Regions from separate parts of the Homo sapiens genome. Here region 2 is linked to region 1. Evidence: fine-mapped expression QTL. Tissue or cell type: monocytes after R848. Region 1 holds a variant in brackets; the other region holds the start of a gene. All regions are shown on one strand. Distances are from middle to middle.

What was found. PIP is the estimated chance that this variant, and not a neighbour inherited with it, causes the effect.
Region 2: it holds the start of LIG1, and the variant in region 1 is fine-mapped to the expression of LIG1 in monocytes after R848 (Quach 2016, PIP 0.95).

The regions. Positions count from the first base shown.
Region 1 is chr19:48,411,471-48,419,470 of GRCh38, forward strand. GRIN2D (glutamate ionotropic receptor NMDA type subunit 2D) reads left to right here. Exons shown (of 14, transcript NM_000836.4): 5 at 2,521-2,635; 6 at 2,903-3,114; 7 at 3,394-3,562; 8 at 4,532-4,685; 9 at 7,764-7,889. Among named protein-coding and RNA genes, the nearest start is that of GRIN2D, 22 kb to the left of the region's middle. RefSeq lists enhancers at 2,918-3,639, 3,345-3,484, 7,197-7,963, 7,714-7,953. The variant A/G (reference allele first, on the strand shown) is at 3,324.
Region 2 is chr19:48,166,848-48,174,847 of GRCh38, forward strand. It overlaps LIG1 (DNA ligase 1), which reads right to left and starts at 3,497. Exons shown (of 28, transcript NM_000234.3): 1 at 3,394-3,497. It overlaps ZSWIM9 (zinc finger SWIM-type containing 9), which reads left to right and starts at 3,833. Exons shown (of 4, transcript NM_199341.4): 1 at 3,833-3,867; 2 at 4,947-5,230. The coding sequence starts at 4,956. RefSeq lists silencers at 2,936-3,005, 3,036-3,085, 3,886-4,025 and an enhancer at 2,979-3,638.

The sequences.
Region 1 (8,000 bases):
GAAACCCTGTCTCTACTAAAAATACAAAATTAGGCAGGCGCGGTGGTGCTTGCCTGTAATCCCAGCTACTCAGGAGGCTGAGGCAGGAGAATCGCTTGGACCTGGGAGGCGGAGGTTCCAGCGAGCTGAGATTGCACCATTGCACTCCAGCCTAGGTGACAGAGCAAGACTCCATCTCAATAATAAATAAATAAATAAATAAGAAGAATAGTTGGTCAGGATAAGGGGTGGTATAAGGTTTTTCAGGCAGAGAGAACAGCATCTGCAAAGTCCTAGAGATAAGAAATCACTTGACATGTTTGGGAGACACCTTGAAGCCAGTGTTGATAGAGAAAAAAAAAAAGAATTTTGGGGTGAAAAGAGTTTGAAGTTTGAGGGTGGGAACTCTCAGAGATGCGGCTTCAGAGGAAGGCAAAGCCAGAACAAAAACAGACTCTAGGGGCCTGGCACAGTGATTCACACCTGTAATCCCACTATGTTGGGAGGTTGAGGTGGGAGGATCACTTGAACTCAGGAGTTCAAGACCAGCCTGGGAAAAGTAGTGAGACCCTATCTCTACTTAAAAAAAAAAAGAGGCTGGGCGTGGTGGCTCATGCCTGTAATCCCAGCACTTTGGAAGGCCGAGGCAGGCGGATCACAAGGTCAGGAGATCAAGACCATCCTGGCTAACACGGTGAAACCCCGTCTCTACTAAAAAAAATACAAAAAATTAGCTGGGTGTGGTGGCAGGTGCCTGTAGTCCCAGTTACTTGTGAGGCTGAGGCAGGAGAATGGCGTGAACCTGGGAGGTGGAGCTTGCAGTGAGCCAAGATCGCACCACTACACTCCAGCCTGGGCGACAGAGCGAGACTCTGTCTCAAAAATAAATAAATAAATACATACATACATACATAAAAATTTAAAAAAAAGAAAAGAAGAAAGAGAAAGAAAAGAAAGAAAGAAAGAGAAAGAAAAGAAAGAAAGAAAGAAAGAAAGAAAGAAAGAAAGAAAGAAAGAAAGAAAGAAAGAAAGAGAGAGAAAGAAAGAGGCGGGCCAGGCCAGGCGCGGTGGCTCACGCTTGTAATCCCAGCCCTTTGGGAGGCTGAGGCGGGCGGATCACCTGAGGTCATGAGTTCGAGACCACCCTGGTCAACATGGTGAAACCCTGTCTCTACTAAAAATACAAAAAATTAGCCGGGCATGGTCGTGGGCGCCTGTAATCCCAGCTACTCGGGAGGCTGAGGCAGGAGAATTGCTTGAACCCGGGAGGCGGAGGTTGCAGTGAGCTGAGACCACACCATTGCACTCCAGCCTGGGCAACAAGAGCAAAACTCTGTCTCAAGAAACAAAAACAAAAACAAACAAAAAACCACACATTAAAAAAAAAAAAAAAAGAAAGAGGAGGGCATGGTGGCTCATGCCTGTAATCCCAACACTTTGGGAGGCTGAGGCAGGTGGATCACTGAGGCTGAGGTCAGGAGTTCTAGACCAGTCTGGCCAACATGGTGAAACCCCATCTCTACTAAAAATACAAAAATTAGCTGGACATGGTGGTGAACACCTGCAATCCCAGCTACTCAGGAGGCTGAGGCAGGAGAATTGCTTGAACCCGGGAGGCGGAGGTTGCAGTGAGCCGAGACCATACCATTGCACTCCAGCCTGGGCAACAAGAGCAAGACTCTGTCTCAAAAAACAAAAACAAAAACAAACAAAAAAACCACACATTAAAAAAAAAAAAAAAGAAAGAGGGCATGGTGGCTCATGCCTGTAATCCCAACACTTTGGGAGGCTGAGGCAGGTGGATCACTGAGGCTGAGGTCAGGAGTTCTAGACCAGTCTGGCCAACATGGTGAAACCCCATCTCTACTAAAAATACAAAAATTAGCTGGACATGGTGGTGAACACCTGCAATCCCAGCTACTCAGGAGGCTGAGGCAGGAGGATTGCTTGAACCAGGAGGCGGAGGTTGCAGTGAGCGAAGATCATGCCACTGCACTCCAGCCTGGGTGACAGAGCAAGACTCTGTCTCAAAAAACAAAACAAAAACAAAAACAAACAAAATATTAGCCAAGCATGGTGGTGCATGTCTATAATCCCAGCTACTTGGGAGGCTGAGGCAGGAGAATCACTTGAACCCAGGAAGTGGAGGTGGCAGTGAGCCAAGATCATACCACTGCACTCCAGCCTGGGAGACAGAGCAAGACTCTGTCTCAAAAAAAAAAAAAAAAAAAAAGACCAGCCTGGGAAAAATAGTGAAACCCCATCTCTACTTTAAAAAAGAAGGAAAGAAAAGGGGACTCTAGGGCCTCAACACCAAGCTGAAAGAGAGTCTGGAACCTTATCCTGGGGGGCACTGGGCAGCCAAGGGGAGGGTGCTGAGCAGGGAAGGGGTATATTCGTGTTTTTGAGACCTTGGAGGTAAAAGAAGAGAGATTCCAGCTGGGGGCTGGGGCTGGTCTGCAGAAAGGGGACTTTCTCTGCCTTCCGCTGCCAAGGTCCAGCCCAGGCCCCAGCATGTCCCCTTTCCCTCCTCCTGGGCAGGTACTTCATGAACATCACGTGGGATAACCGGGATTACTCCTTCAATGAGGACGGCTTCCTAGTGAACCCCTCCCTGGTGGTCATCTCCCTCACCAGAGACAGGACGTGGGAGGTGGTGAGTCGTAGCCCCAGACCTCAGGCATGGCAGAGGGTGTGGACTCCTGCATCCTGGCAGAGGGGGGGCTTGAGGTCGTGGACTAAGAGGGAGGAGGGGACAAGGAGCCTGGACTCCTGGGTCCTGGGATCTGAAGGTGGGAGGGGCTCCTGGGTCTTGGAAGAAGCTGCTGCCCACACACCTAGGTCTGAGGGAAGAGGATCATGGAGGCCAGGATACACCGGGAAGTCTTCCCAGGAAGCCTGACTCTCTTTCCCTTTGGCCAAGGTGGGCAGCTGGGAGCAGCAGACGCTCCGCCTCAAGTACCCGCTGTGGTCCCGCTATGGTCGCTTCCTGCAGCCAGTGGACGACACGCAGCACCTCACGGTGGCCACGCTGGAGGAAAGGCCGTTTGTCATCGTGGAGCCTGCAGACCCTATCAGCGGCACCTGCATCCGAGACTCCGTCCCCTGCCGGAGCCAGCTCAACCGAACCCACAGGTGACAGCTCGGGATCCAGGAGTTCCGGCTCCAAAACCCGCCTCCCGTGAAGCCCAGTAGTCTGGGCCCCCAGCCCCCTCCTCCCTTGGGACCCAGGACCCACAAAGCCCTCCAGCTTGGTGACCTTAGGCAAACCTCAGAATTCTTTGAGCCTGAGTTTCCCCTGAAAGCGCTAACCATAGTTTTAGCTGCCGCCTATCCCTTCCTCC[A/G]TATCCTCTCTTCATGAGAGAGTCTAAGGAGGGGGTCCCCAAACTCCCCAAGCCTGGTCACTGCCCGCAGCCCTCCACCGGATGCCCCCCGCCCGGAAAAGCGCTGCTGCAAGGGTTTCTGCATCGACATTCTGAAGCGGCTGGCGCATACCATCGGCTTCAGCTACGACCTCTACCTGGTCACCAATGGCAAGCACGGAAAGAAGATCGATGGCGTCTGGAACGGCATGATCGGGGAGGTGAGGGGGCGGACGGGAGGCGGGGAATCTTCGGGGCGGAGTCGAGAGGCGGGCACAGCCGGGCGTGGTGGCTCACGCCTGTAATCCCAGCACTTTGGGAAGCCGAGGCGGGCGAATTGCCTGAGCTCAGGGGTTCGAGACCAGTTTGGGCAAAACGGTGAAACCCCGTCTCTACTAAAATGCAAAAAATTAGCCGTGCGTGGTGGCGGGCGCCTGTAATCCCAGCTACTCGGGAGGCTGAGGCAGGAGAATTGCTTGAACCCGGGAGGCGGAGGTTGCAGTAAGCGGAGATCGCGCCACTGCACTCCAGCCTGGGCACAGAGTGAGACTCAGTCTCAAAAAATAATAATAAAAAAAAAGAGGTCGGCACCCTGGGGCAGGGGCGCGGCCAAATTGAGGAAACACCTGATTGGGGCCTGGGGCGGGGTCGCGGGAGGGACATGCCTTGGAACAGGGGGCGGGGTCAGGAGGTGTCAGGGGCGGGGTTTGGAGGAGGGACTTTGGAGCAGAGGAGGCGGGGCTAGGAGGGTGGGACTCCTAGGGGAAGGGGGCAGGGCTGGGAGGAGGGACTTTGGGGCAGTGGAGGCGGGGCTAGGAGGGTGGGACTCCTAGGGGAAGGGGGCGGGGCTGGGAGGAGGGACTTTGGTACAGAGGAGGAGGGGCCAGGAGGGTGAGAATCTAGGGGAAGAGGGTGGGGCTGGGAAGATCTGGACCAAGGCCTTGAGGTCTTGCTGGGAGCAGCCGGGTAGGACGCGGGCTACCAATTCCCAATCTTGTTCCCCATTTCTCACCTCCGCCCTTCCCTGCCCCACTCTTCGTCCCCCTCCTCACCCACCTCGCAATCCCTCTTGGCCCCTTCCCTCACCCTGTCACTGGTCTGCTCCCGGGGCCCGTCTCTGCTCGCCGTCCGTGTCAGTCTGTCCGCTTGAGCCGGGTTCCCCCGCCCACTCCTCATCGCCCCCACCCCAGGTGTTCTACCAGCGCGCAGACATGGCCATCGGCTCCCTCACCATCAACGAGGAGCGCTCCGAGATCGTGGACTTCTCCGTCCCCTTCGTGGAGACCGGCATCAGCGTCATGGTGGCGCGCAGCAATGGCACGGTGTCCCCCTCGGCCTTCCTCGGTAATCTGGGGCCCTGGGACAGGGAGCTAGCCCTAGGCAAAGTAGCCGTCCCCAACCGTGTGGGCCCTGGGATCAGAAAACCTGGGTTCCCGGTATCATCGGTACTTGAACCCGCTGTGCAACTTCGGTGAAGTGACATCATTTCTGAACCTCAGTTTCCTAATCTACAAGATGGAAGAAATAATTTCCCTACCCAGAAGACATTTCATCAAGAGGCTAAAGAAGCTTGAGCTCAGGAGCCTTCTCTTGCACTGCAGCTTCCAAGCCCTGCACCTGGTTTTGTATTCATAAGGTTGAATTATTTTTTCTCAAAGAGAGCCCTCCAAATTGTGCAAGCTTCAGGCCCCACAAAACCCAAGTGTTTTCCTGTACTAGGTATGAGATGAAGAGAACAAATTAGCATGGTACCAATACCTTGTAAGCACTTAAGTCACCATCAGTGTTTACTGAGCATCTACTATGTGCCAGGTGGTGGGCTCCACACTGGGAACACAGTGGCAAATGAGGAAGACACAAATCCCTGTCCAGTAGGATCTCTCAGCCTTGTGAAGGAGGCAGAAGATAAGCTTCTACTTCTCTCTCTCTCTCTCTTTTTTTTTTTTTCAGACAGAGTCTCACTCTGTCGCCCAGGCTGGAATGCAGTGGCACCATCTCGGCTCACTGCAACCTCAACCTGCCTCTCAGGTTTAAGCGATTCTCCTGCCTCAGCCTGCCAAGTAACTGGGATCACAGGCATGCACCACCACGCCTGGCCAATTTTTGTATTTTTAGTAGAGACGGGGTTTCACCATGGTGGCCAGCCTAATCTCAAACTCCTGACCTCAGGTGATCTGCCCACCTCAGCCTCCCAAAATGCTGGAATTACAGGCGTGAGCCACTGCACCCGGACAAGGGTTTTAACTACAGAAGATGGTGTGGGGATATATAATCAGATTTAAGTTTTTAAAATATCCAGCTCTGTGTAATCCCAGCTACTCCGGAGGCTGAGGTGTAAGGATGGCTTGAACCCAGGAGGCAGAGGTTGCAGTGAGCCAAGATGGCACCACCGCACTCCAGCCTGGATGACAGAGCCAGACCCTATCTCTAAAAAAGAACAAAGAAAAAAATCCCACTCTGTGGAAGCAAGTGGCTGGTGGGGATGCTACTGCAAGGTTTATGCCAGAGACAGAGTGGGGGTGTGCAATAGGAAGGTGACAGCAGACAGATGCAGGGTGTGGTTAGAGAGCTGCCCACCAGATGGGCTGGTGGCTTTGAGATGGATTGGGTAGAGGGACCATTGCTGAGCTGGAGAAGCGTACATCGGCCAAGGGCAACAGTGCTTGTCAGTTCCCACTTGCTCTCTGAAGTGTGAGCAAAGCTCCTGGGAGAGGGGAGGGGCTGGAAGAAGAGCCATCCCTTCCTTTGTGTTTTGTTTTCTGTTTATTTCGCCCAGTGGTGTCTCCTGTGGCCTCCCCTTTGCACCAAGGTCTCTGCAGGGCACACTGAGAAGCACCACGTGGGGCCCCTGCTTGCAGGCAGCACACTGCAGAGGAGTGACAAGGTCCTATTTATGCCCCACCAAGTTGCCCAGCAGAGGTGACAGGCGTGTCCCCAGCTGCCGCAGTGACAGTCCAGGGTGCTGACCTTGCTGTGACGGGGGCAGTCCTGACAGCTCACACTTGGCCCTGGAAAGTTGAATCACCTGGTCCTAATCTCAATGAAATGGTGATTTGGGTTTATTGTTGGTGAGCTCCCAGGGGCTAAACACAGTTATCGAATGTGAGGAGGGGACACATGAATGGGAGGTTGTCTAATGGACAGGGCAGGGTGTTAACTCTAGCAGGGACACCTAGGAGACAAGGAAGAGAGGGTGTCGCTGATTCAGGCACCTGCGAGTTCTTTTTTTTTTTTTTTTTTGAGACAGAGTCTTGCTCTGTCACCCAGGCTGGAGTGCAGTGGCACGATCTCAGCTCACTGCAACCTCCACCTCCTGGGTTCAAGCAATTCTCCTGCCTCAGCCTACTGAGTAGTTGGGACTACAGGCGCCCACCACGACACCCAGCTAATTTTGTATTTTTAGTAGAGATGGGGTTTCACCATGTTGGCCAGGCTGGTCTTGAACTCCTGACCTTAGGTGATCCTCCCACCTCGGCCTCCCAAAGTACTGGGATTACAGGCGTGAACCACCACACCCAGCCACCTGTGAGTTTTGAGTAAAGCATGGGTGCTTGAGAGAGTGATCAGGACAGAAAGGAGAGTGTGACAAGGCTGAGTGGCAGGGACTTTGTCCTGGGGGTGCTAGGGAGCCTGGGGAGGGCTGTAAGCAGGGGAGGGGCCAGGTCCTCTCTGTGCTGTGTGGGGGATAGGCTGTAGGGGACAGACAGGAGCTCAGGAGGCTGGGGAAATGGTTGGTGGGAGGAGATGAGGCCTGAGCCCTGTTGGCCATGAGAATGGAGAGGAGAGGCCCAAGTAGCATCAGGGGCAGGAGCGTGGGGCTGGATACTGACAGGCTGTGGCCAGCGAGGGAGAAGGAGGGAGGAAGGGAGGACGGCAAATGAGGTTTGGGCCTGTGACTGGGTGGATGGTGGGGCTCCCATCATGAGGAGCGTGGGAGCTGGTCTGGGCTCAGCATGGGACATGATGAATGGCCTGAGGAGATGGCTGGGGTAGGTGGAGGCTTGGGCCTGTGACTCAGGAAACATTTAGGAGACAGTTTCTATTTGGTGGCTGAAACCACAGAAATGCCTGCGACGGCTCTCTTTGAGAATGGCTGCCTCCTAGGGGTATGGGTGTGCCATAAGACTATCTTGGAGATGGAGAAGCAGAGATAGGGCCAGAATAGGATGGGGTCAGATCTGGGCTGCACCTTGTTCCCTGCTGGTAGTACCCTAGGGTTTTTTTTCTTTCTTTTTTCTTCCTTTTTTTTTTTTGTAGAGACAGGGAGTTCAAGGCCAGTCTGGTCTTGAACTCCAGGCGTCAAGTGATCCTCCTGCCTCAGCCTCCCAAAGTTCTGGGAGTACAGGCGTGAGGCACCGCCCCAGCCTGATCCCCGAGTCTTTTGCTTGGCTGAGCCATAACCACGCACTCCCTTGTCCCCAGAGCCCTACAGCCCCGCCGTGTGGGTGATGATGTTCGTCATGTGCCTCACTGTGGTCGCCGTCACTGTTTTCATCTTCGAGTACCTCAGTCCTGTTGGTTACAACCGCAGCCTGGCCACGGGCAAGCGTGAGTCCCCCTTCCTCCATCCCCCGCCTCGGAGATCCCGAACCACAGAGACAGAGAACTACATTTCCCAGCAGCCCCTGGAGGGGGGGCGGTCAAGCTAGGGCCTCTCGG
Region 2 (8,000 bases), 240 kb before region 1:
GTAATCCCAGCTAGTGGGGAGGCTGAGGCAGGAGAATCACTTGAACCCAGGAAGTGGAGGTTGCAGTGAGATCATGCACTCTAGCCTGGGCAACAGAGTAACACTCTGTCTCAAAAAAAAAAAAAAAGAAAGAAAAAGAAAGAAAAAGAAAAAGAAAAGAAAGGGTTCTTAATCTGGGGTCCACAAAACCCAGGAGTCCAAGAGCAGAACTCAAGTGGTCTATGAAATTTGACAGGAAAGAAATTACGACTTTATTCTTGTAAACTTCTAATTGGAACTGAGCCTTTCCTTCCATTATAAATATTAAAGATATAAAAAATTATAAATTTTCTATATCTTTAATATTTATAATGGAAGAAAATAAATTACACATTATAATTATGTAATTATAATTATTTACATTATATTTCCTTCCACTATGAATATATTTTTTAAAAAAGGACTAGCAGGACCTCTGCGTGGATTGCTTGAGTTGAGACCAGCTCAGACCAGCCTGGGCAACAGAAATGGTTTTCTTTGACTTTCCCTTCCTTTGCACAGAAATCTTCTTCAACCCATGGGGTCCCCTTTCGTTTTCTGGAATCAGTACTCTCTGTCCCGCACCACACGCCTCTAAGTCTCCACTACTCTCTACAGCCTTGGCCGCCACATGTTGGCACCACAACTCAAACTCAATTTTGGAATCAAAAAACTCAGTAGGCCGGCACTGTGGCTCACGCCTGTACTCCCAGCACTTTGGAAGGCTGAGACAGGCGGATCACGAGGTCAGGAGTTCAAGACCAGCCTGGCCCGCATGGTGAAACCCCATCTCTACTAAAAATGCAAAAAATTAGCCAGGCATGGTGGTGCCAGCCTGTAATCCCAACTACTCAGGAGGCTGAGGCAGGAGAATCACTTGATCCCAGGAGGCAGAGGTTGCAGTGAGCTGAGACTGCACCACTGGACTCCAGCCTGGGCGACAGAGCGAGACCCCGTCTTAAAAAAAAAAAAAAAAAAAAAAAAACAAACAAAAAAGAAACTCAGCAATTTCCAAACAGAGTTTCTCAGGGCCAGTTGGGGAGCAGGAAGTAAGCAATGCTTCAACCAAACAGTTCACACAGAAAGCAGGTTAGGGACTTAGCCACCAAAATCCTGAGGGCAAAGGAGAAAACTATTACGATCCCTCCTGAGTGCTCAACTGCCTAGGTACTTGACATTCTCAATTATACTGACTCTCCACAACAACTCTGTTACAGAAACTAAGGCACAGAGGGGTTTTCAAAGGAACTTAACCTGCATCTATAGTACGTTCCACCCCAGGTCGGCCTGCTCCACAGCTCACCTCTTAACCACCAGACTGAGTTGCAAGGGAAGGAGAAATACATAAGCGTTTACTGGGAAGCCTACTCTATGCCTGACAGGCTGATCACATTCTCAAATACCCTCAATCCTCAAGTCAGCCCTCCAAGACAGGTGAGATCATCCCCACTTTATAGATGAAGGTAATGAGGACAGAGGAACATAGCTGGGGTTCAGGCAAGGCTTCAAAACCCGGTGTGGCTGGCTCCAAAGCCCACGTTCCTTTCTCCTTACCACGGTACTCAAGGCTGGCTTCTCAACTCTGTGTACTGCTGAGTTGGGGGGAACAAACTGGTTGATGCCTCTGGAGGACCACCTGGCGTCTCTATCGGAACGGCAACCCCACTTCTGTGTATTTGGCCCACAGAGACCCTCACAGGTGGACCAAGTGAGGCACAAAGTTACCTGCTGCAGCACTAACTGTAATGAGAGAAGACTGGAAACTGGTGGAATGTCTACCCTTAGGGAACTGGTTCCCTCATTACTGGAATACCATATGGTAGAATATTGTTCAGGGTTAAAATTAAATGAATGATGGATAAAAGGTATAGGAGTTTTTTGGGGGGATGATAAAAATATCCTAAAATCGATTATGGTAATAACTGCACAACTCAGCGCATACACTGAAAACCACTGACTTGTACACTTTAAATGGGCACTTTAAATACACTGAAATACACTTTAAATACACTGAAAACCGCTGACTTGTACATTTTAAATGGGCAAAATTGTACACTTTAAATGGGCAAACTGTATAATTGTGAATTATATCTCAATAAAGCGGTTACCAAAATGAAGAGATAATGACAGGAAAAATATCAAGTAAGGATGAAACAGTACTCAGTAATAAAAAGAAACGAAGCACTGATACAAGCAACAACTTGGGTGGACCTCCAGGGCATTGTGCAGAGTAGAAAAAAGGTAACATCCTAATAATATATGATTCCATTTACATAACAATCTCCGAATGACAAAACTAGAGATGGTGAACACATTAGCGGTTGCCAGGGGCCTGGGGAGGAGTTCTTATGTGGAGAGGGAACTGTTCTATATCACAATTACGATGGGGGTTACACAAATCTATACAAGGAATCAAGCTGCACGGGCACACAGATGCACAATCACACTCACACCACACAAACTGGTGAAAACTGAACAAGGTCTGTAATCTAGTTAACAGAACTGTATTGATGTCAATTTCCTGGTTTCGATATTGGGACTACATAAGATGTCACCATTAGGGGAAGATGGATATACTCTTTTCACAACTTCCTTGAATCTATAATTATTTCAAAATAAAAAGTAAAAACAAGAGGTAAGCTCCATCCCTTTATCAAGCATACATTAGGCCAGACGTCTCCCCATTCAGATGATTCTCCATCTTTTACGAGCCCTTTACCTAGACCTGGACCTTACCACTGACCTCTCCCTGACACCACCCATCTCCCTCCAGTAGGGCCCACTCCTTCCAGGTGATGCTGCTGCCCGCGATTTACCTTCTTCTAGCCCCGCCCCCTCAGCACTTCCAGGTGGCCCCCGCCCCCTCAGCACTTCCGGTTCCCAGCCAGCCCCACCCTTGGCACCTCCCCCTTCCAGGTGGCCCCGCCCACACGCAATCTTTTCCCCGGCCCCGCCCCTTAGCTCCCTTCAGCCCCTCCCCCTCCCAGATAGCCCCGCCCCCTCGGGGGGCCTTCCGATTTCCAGCTGGCCCCGCCCACACAGTTTTCCCCCCCCCGGCCCCGCCCCTCAGTTCCATTTGGCCTCTCCCCTTTCCAGGTGAACTCGCACCTCAAGGCCTCTTCTCAGAGGACCTGTCCAACTGTCTCTGTCTCTCGTCTACCCTCTACCTGGCCCCCCTCCCTCTGGGAGACACCTCTCTGCACTCTCCGGCGGCCCGCAGCCCGCGCTCTTCCGTCTCCACCGCGCTCTCGGCAGCCTCAGCGTCCCCACGCCCACTCCTCTGCAGACACCCCGACATGGCGAAGCATAGGCCCCAAGCATTCGGCGCACCCGCCGCCCTCCGCCTCCCATCTGCTTGCGGACGGCCCCACTTGCCTTGCGTTGGTCCCGCGCGCCGCTGCCCGGGCAACACACTCAGATCCGCCAGGCGCGCCTCTGCAGTCCCAAGTTCGCGCCACGGCATTCGCGCGCAGACGTCTGCGGGCGGGGGCGGGGCAGAGCCTAGGGGCGGGACCTGGGCACCGTCCGCACCGCCGCCGTCGCGCGGAGGACACTGGGAGTCGTAGTCTCCCGAATGGGAGGAGGGCGGGAAAAGGGGTGAAGTGGGGCGAGCCCTCCCGCAGAGCACACTGGGAAAATGCCCGCGCTTTCCCTCGCCCTGGATGAGCGGGTGTGGCTGAGGGTCTGAGGAGTGACTGGCAGGGAAAGAGGAGGAATCGGTGGAAGCGCCCCCGCGAGGCACGGCGGGAAGAGAGGCGGGAGACCGCGCGGGGCATCCCGGGAGCAAGGGCCGGGCCAGGCCTGGGCGCGGGGCATTGTGGGAGGTGGACGCCGCTCCGGGGCGGGTAGGTGAGTGGGGAGGGGCGGGAAGGGTGCACATCTTGGGGAGGGGAGAGGCACAGCTAGGTGGGACGGCGGGGCTGGAAGGTGCCGCAGCGGGCGGGGAGGGGGGGAGTAGGAGGGTCGGGAGCGGGCTGGATGGGGCTGCTCGAGGGGAGACGCGCAGCTGGACGTGGGGGGAGCATCTGGGGTGAAGGAGCCCATCCGAGGACGAGGGGCCATGTCTAGAACGAAGATGCATATTGCGGGGGATGGTGGATGTAACTGGGAGGAGGGGCCCACAGCTGGACTGGGGGCCGCATCTGAGGAGGAGGGGACCACAGGTGAATACTGGTGACACTTCCGAGGAGAACTAGCCACAAGTGGGGCACACACCTGTAGGCGAAGCGTGGATAACTGCATGTGGGGAGTACATCTGGAGATGAGAGTGTCTCAGGGAAGCCCCAGCTACAGCTGCATGTGGCGAGCCATAGGGTCATAATCGGGGGAAGGGGCAACAGCTGCACGCCAGAGGCACATCTGGGGAGTGCGGAGCCACAGGTGCATGAAGCATGTGACCGGGTGAGGGGTCCGTGGCCTGGATGTGGGAGCACATCTGGAGATGGAGCGTCTTTGGAGGGGTTACAGCCAACTGTTGGCACATGGAAGGAGGAGTTCCAGATGAATACGAGAGTTAGAAGTTACTCTTGGGTGAGAGACACAGCTGGAAGGGGAGGAGGTTTTAGCTGGAATTTGAGAACACATTTGAGGAGATGTCCTTAAGGGACATCTGAGCTTAAGGGTCGTATTTTGGGAGGAGAGATTCCAACTGTACCTAAGGGTCACATCTGCGGAGGAGGAGACGAGTTGGAATTAGGAATCAAGATGACAGGCTCCAAGTGAACCAGGGATAAGGCGGTGGGAGGAGGCCAAAGATAGGATGGAGGTTGATATTTATATATTTGGAGAAAAACAGGCACGTCCGACCCCGGGCTACCCACCTCGATAGAGGCACCAGCAACCGACGGGGCAGGCCAAGAATGGAGTAGATGAGATACCCCGGGTGGGAATGGGTCTGATATCCACCTGTTCTCCCCTCCTCCACGCAGGCCCCCAGGATGGAGCGGCCGGAGCCCCCACCCGGCACGGCTGCGGGGCAGGAGGAGCAGGAGCTGCGGGAGCGGGCCTTCTTCTCGTGGGCCGAGTTCAGCCGCTTCTTCGACGCGTGGTGCCAGCAGCGGCTGGCGCTCTTCTTCGTCAAGAGCTCCATGCACCTGGCGCGCTGCCGCTGGGCCAGTGCGCCCCCGCTCTACACGCTCATCGACGTGCTCAAGTACAGCTACGTGCGGCTTGTGTGCAAGGACGTGCGTGCGCCCAGCCGGCCCGCCGTGGGGTGCGTGAACCTGAGCCGCTGTCCTGCTGGGGGGAAGGGGAGCACCGGGGGTGGGTGTGGGTGGGAGACGGGCAGAGAACACCCCACCCAGAGATGCAGAGGGGGAGAGGCCAACTGAGGCAGCCAAATACACCTTGCAGAGAGGCGGGAGTCAAGGAGGGACATGTACTGAGAGAAGAAGAGGAGCTAGAGAGACAAAGATACTCACGGAGCAAGAGATGGTGTGGGCCCGACTTACAGACTTTTTTTTTTTTTTCGAGATGGAGTCTCGCTCTGTCGCCCAGGCTTGAGTGCAGTGGTGCCATCTGCAGCCTCCACCTCCTAGGTTCAAGTGATTCTCCCGCCTCAGCCTCCCGAGTAGCTAGGACTACAGGCACCTGCCATCATGCCCGGCTAATTTTTGTGTGGTTTTTTGTTTTTGTTTTTGTTTTGTTTTGCTTTGTGTTGTTTTTTTGAGACAGAGTCTTGCTCTGTCACTCAGGCTGGAGTGCAATGGCACAATCTCGGCTCACTGCAACCTCCACCTCCCGAGTTCAAGCGTTGTTTCTCCTGCCTCAACCTCCTGAGTAGCTGGGATTACAGGCACGCGCCACCACGCCTGGCCAATTTTTGGATTTTTGTAGAGATGGGGTTTCACCATGTTGGCCAGGCTGGTCTCAAACTCATGACCTCAGGTGATCTGCCCGTCTTGCCTCCCAAAGTGCTGGGATTACAGCCGCGAGCCACTGTGCCCGGCCTGACTTACAGAATGTAATAGAGACTTCGAGAGGCAGAGCGTAAAACACACACACCCCAAGAGGAGAAAATAGTCACGGAAAATTCCAGAAACATGGAGACATGGAGGCAGAGACACCAGAGACAGCCAGGGAAACAGAAGAGCCAGGTTTTGTACACGTGACAAAGACTGGGAGACAGAGACTGGGAGACTGAACTGCAGAGAAGCCGCAGGATAAAGAAAAGGATCCATCTATTCAGTGAATAAGGGGCCAGGTCCCATGCTGTGGGCTGGGGATATTCTAGTTGGAGCGATGGAGTTGGGCAAGAGACAAAAATCCCTGCCCTTCTGGTACTTTCTGACTGGACAGAAAGATTGACGTTAAAAGAACAAGCTCACAGGTAGTTCCCTACAACTGTGCAAAGAGGGGCAGGTGAGAAATCCAGGAGAGCCAGAATCACACCCAGGTGGCCAGGGGTATTTTAATGGACCCCAATTGTATTTTATTTAGTCTTTATTTTTTTGAGACAGGGTCTTACTCTGTTGCCCAGGCTGGAGAGCAGTAGTGCGATCTTGGCTCCCTGCAACCTCCAACTCCTGGGTTCAAGAGATTCCCCCACCTCAGCCTCCCAAGTAGCTGGGACTACAGGTGTGTGCCACTATGCCCACCTAATTTTTGTATTTGTAGTAGAGATGGGGTGTCACCATGTTGGCCAGGCTGGTCTCGAACTCCTGACCTCAAGGAGGCTGAGGTGATCTGCCCACCTCGGCCTCCCAGAATGCTGGGATTACAGGCATGAGCCACCACACCCAGCCAAATTGACCCCAATTTTATTTTACTTTATTTTATTTTATTTTATTTGAGACGGAGTCTTGCTCTGCCATCCACACTGGAGTGCAGTGGCACAATCTCCACTCACTGCAACCTCAGCCTCCTGGGCTCAAGCAATTCTCCTGCCTTAGCCTCCCCAGTAGCTGGGATTACAGGCATGCGCCACCATGCCCAGCTAATTTTTGTATTTTTAGGGTTTCACCATGTTGGCCAGGCTGGTCTTGAACTCCCGACCTCAGGTGATCTGCCTGCCTTGGCCTCCCAAAGTGCTGGGATTACAGGTGTGAGCCACGGTGCCTGGTCTGACCCCAGTTTTAAACAGGGGTTGTTCCCCACACAGTTAGGTTTCCAGCTTCCACTGGAACACCGGAAGAGGTGAGCCCATGTTTCCATTGGCAGACGGCCACCCCTCTTGGATGGGGCTTTGCTGCCCAGGTTTGCCCCAAACCCTGCCACTCTCTGCTGCCTCATCCCTAGCACTGTCTTTTGCTTGTTTTGCCTGCCTGGTCCCAGTAGGTGTGTGAGTTTGAGACCCTTGGTTGGGGAGCTGTAGACAAGAACAGAGTGCTTAAGAACACAGGCTCTGCCTTTAGGCTGCCTGAGACATGCTCCACGACTTCCTGGATGGGTGACTTTGGGCAATGGACTTCACATCTCCAAGCCTCAGTTTTCTCATCCTTTGAAATGGGGTTATCACGATACCCGCCTCATGGGGCCATTGTGAGGATACTGTGAGATCATACATGAGAAAAACACATAACCCTGGTGCCTGGAACATGGGGTGGCTGGTTAAGTGATAGCTGTTACAGGATTCGAGAGCATGGACTCTGGGCCATTGTGCTGCTGATGCTTGGTGGATGCTGTTGAGTGAGTGACTTCACCTTTCTGTGGCCTCAGTTTCCTCATGTGGAAAATGGGAGACATAATAGTGTCTATCTCATAGGTAAATTATTCAGAAAGGCATCCAGCACAGAGTAAGCACACTCTTAACAGCTCTTTCACCGGTAGTTATTTAAACATGTATTGTGAAATACATTCTTGCAACTTCTTTCTCACTACTTATTCTAGAAACAGAGACTCGGAGATCTGAAAGTGGAACAGCATCAAACACACACATCACCCAGAAACCTAGAACGTTAGAGCTTGCAAGAAGCTCAAAGAAGCTCAGGCCTAATCTGAAACCTATTAACAGAACCCAGTTCCAATGTAACAAATGCTTATTG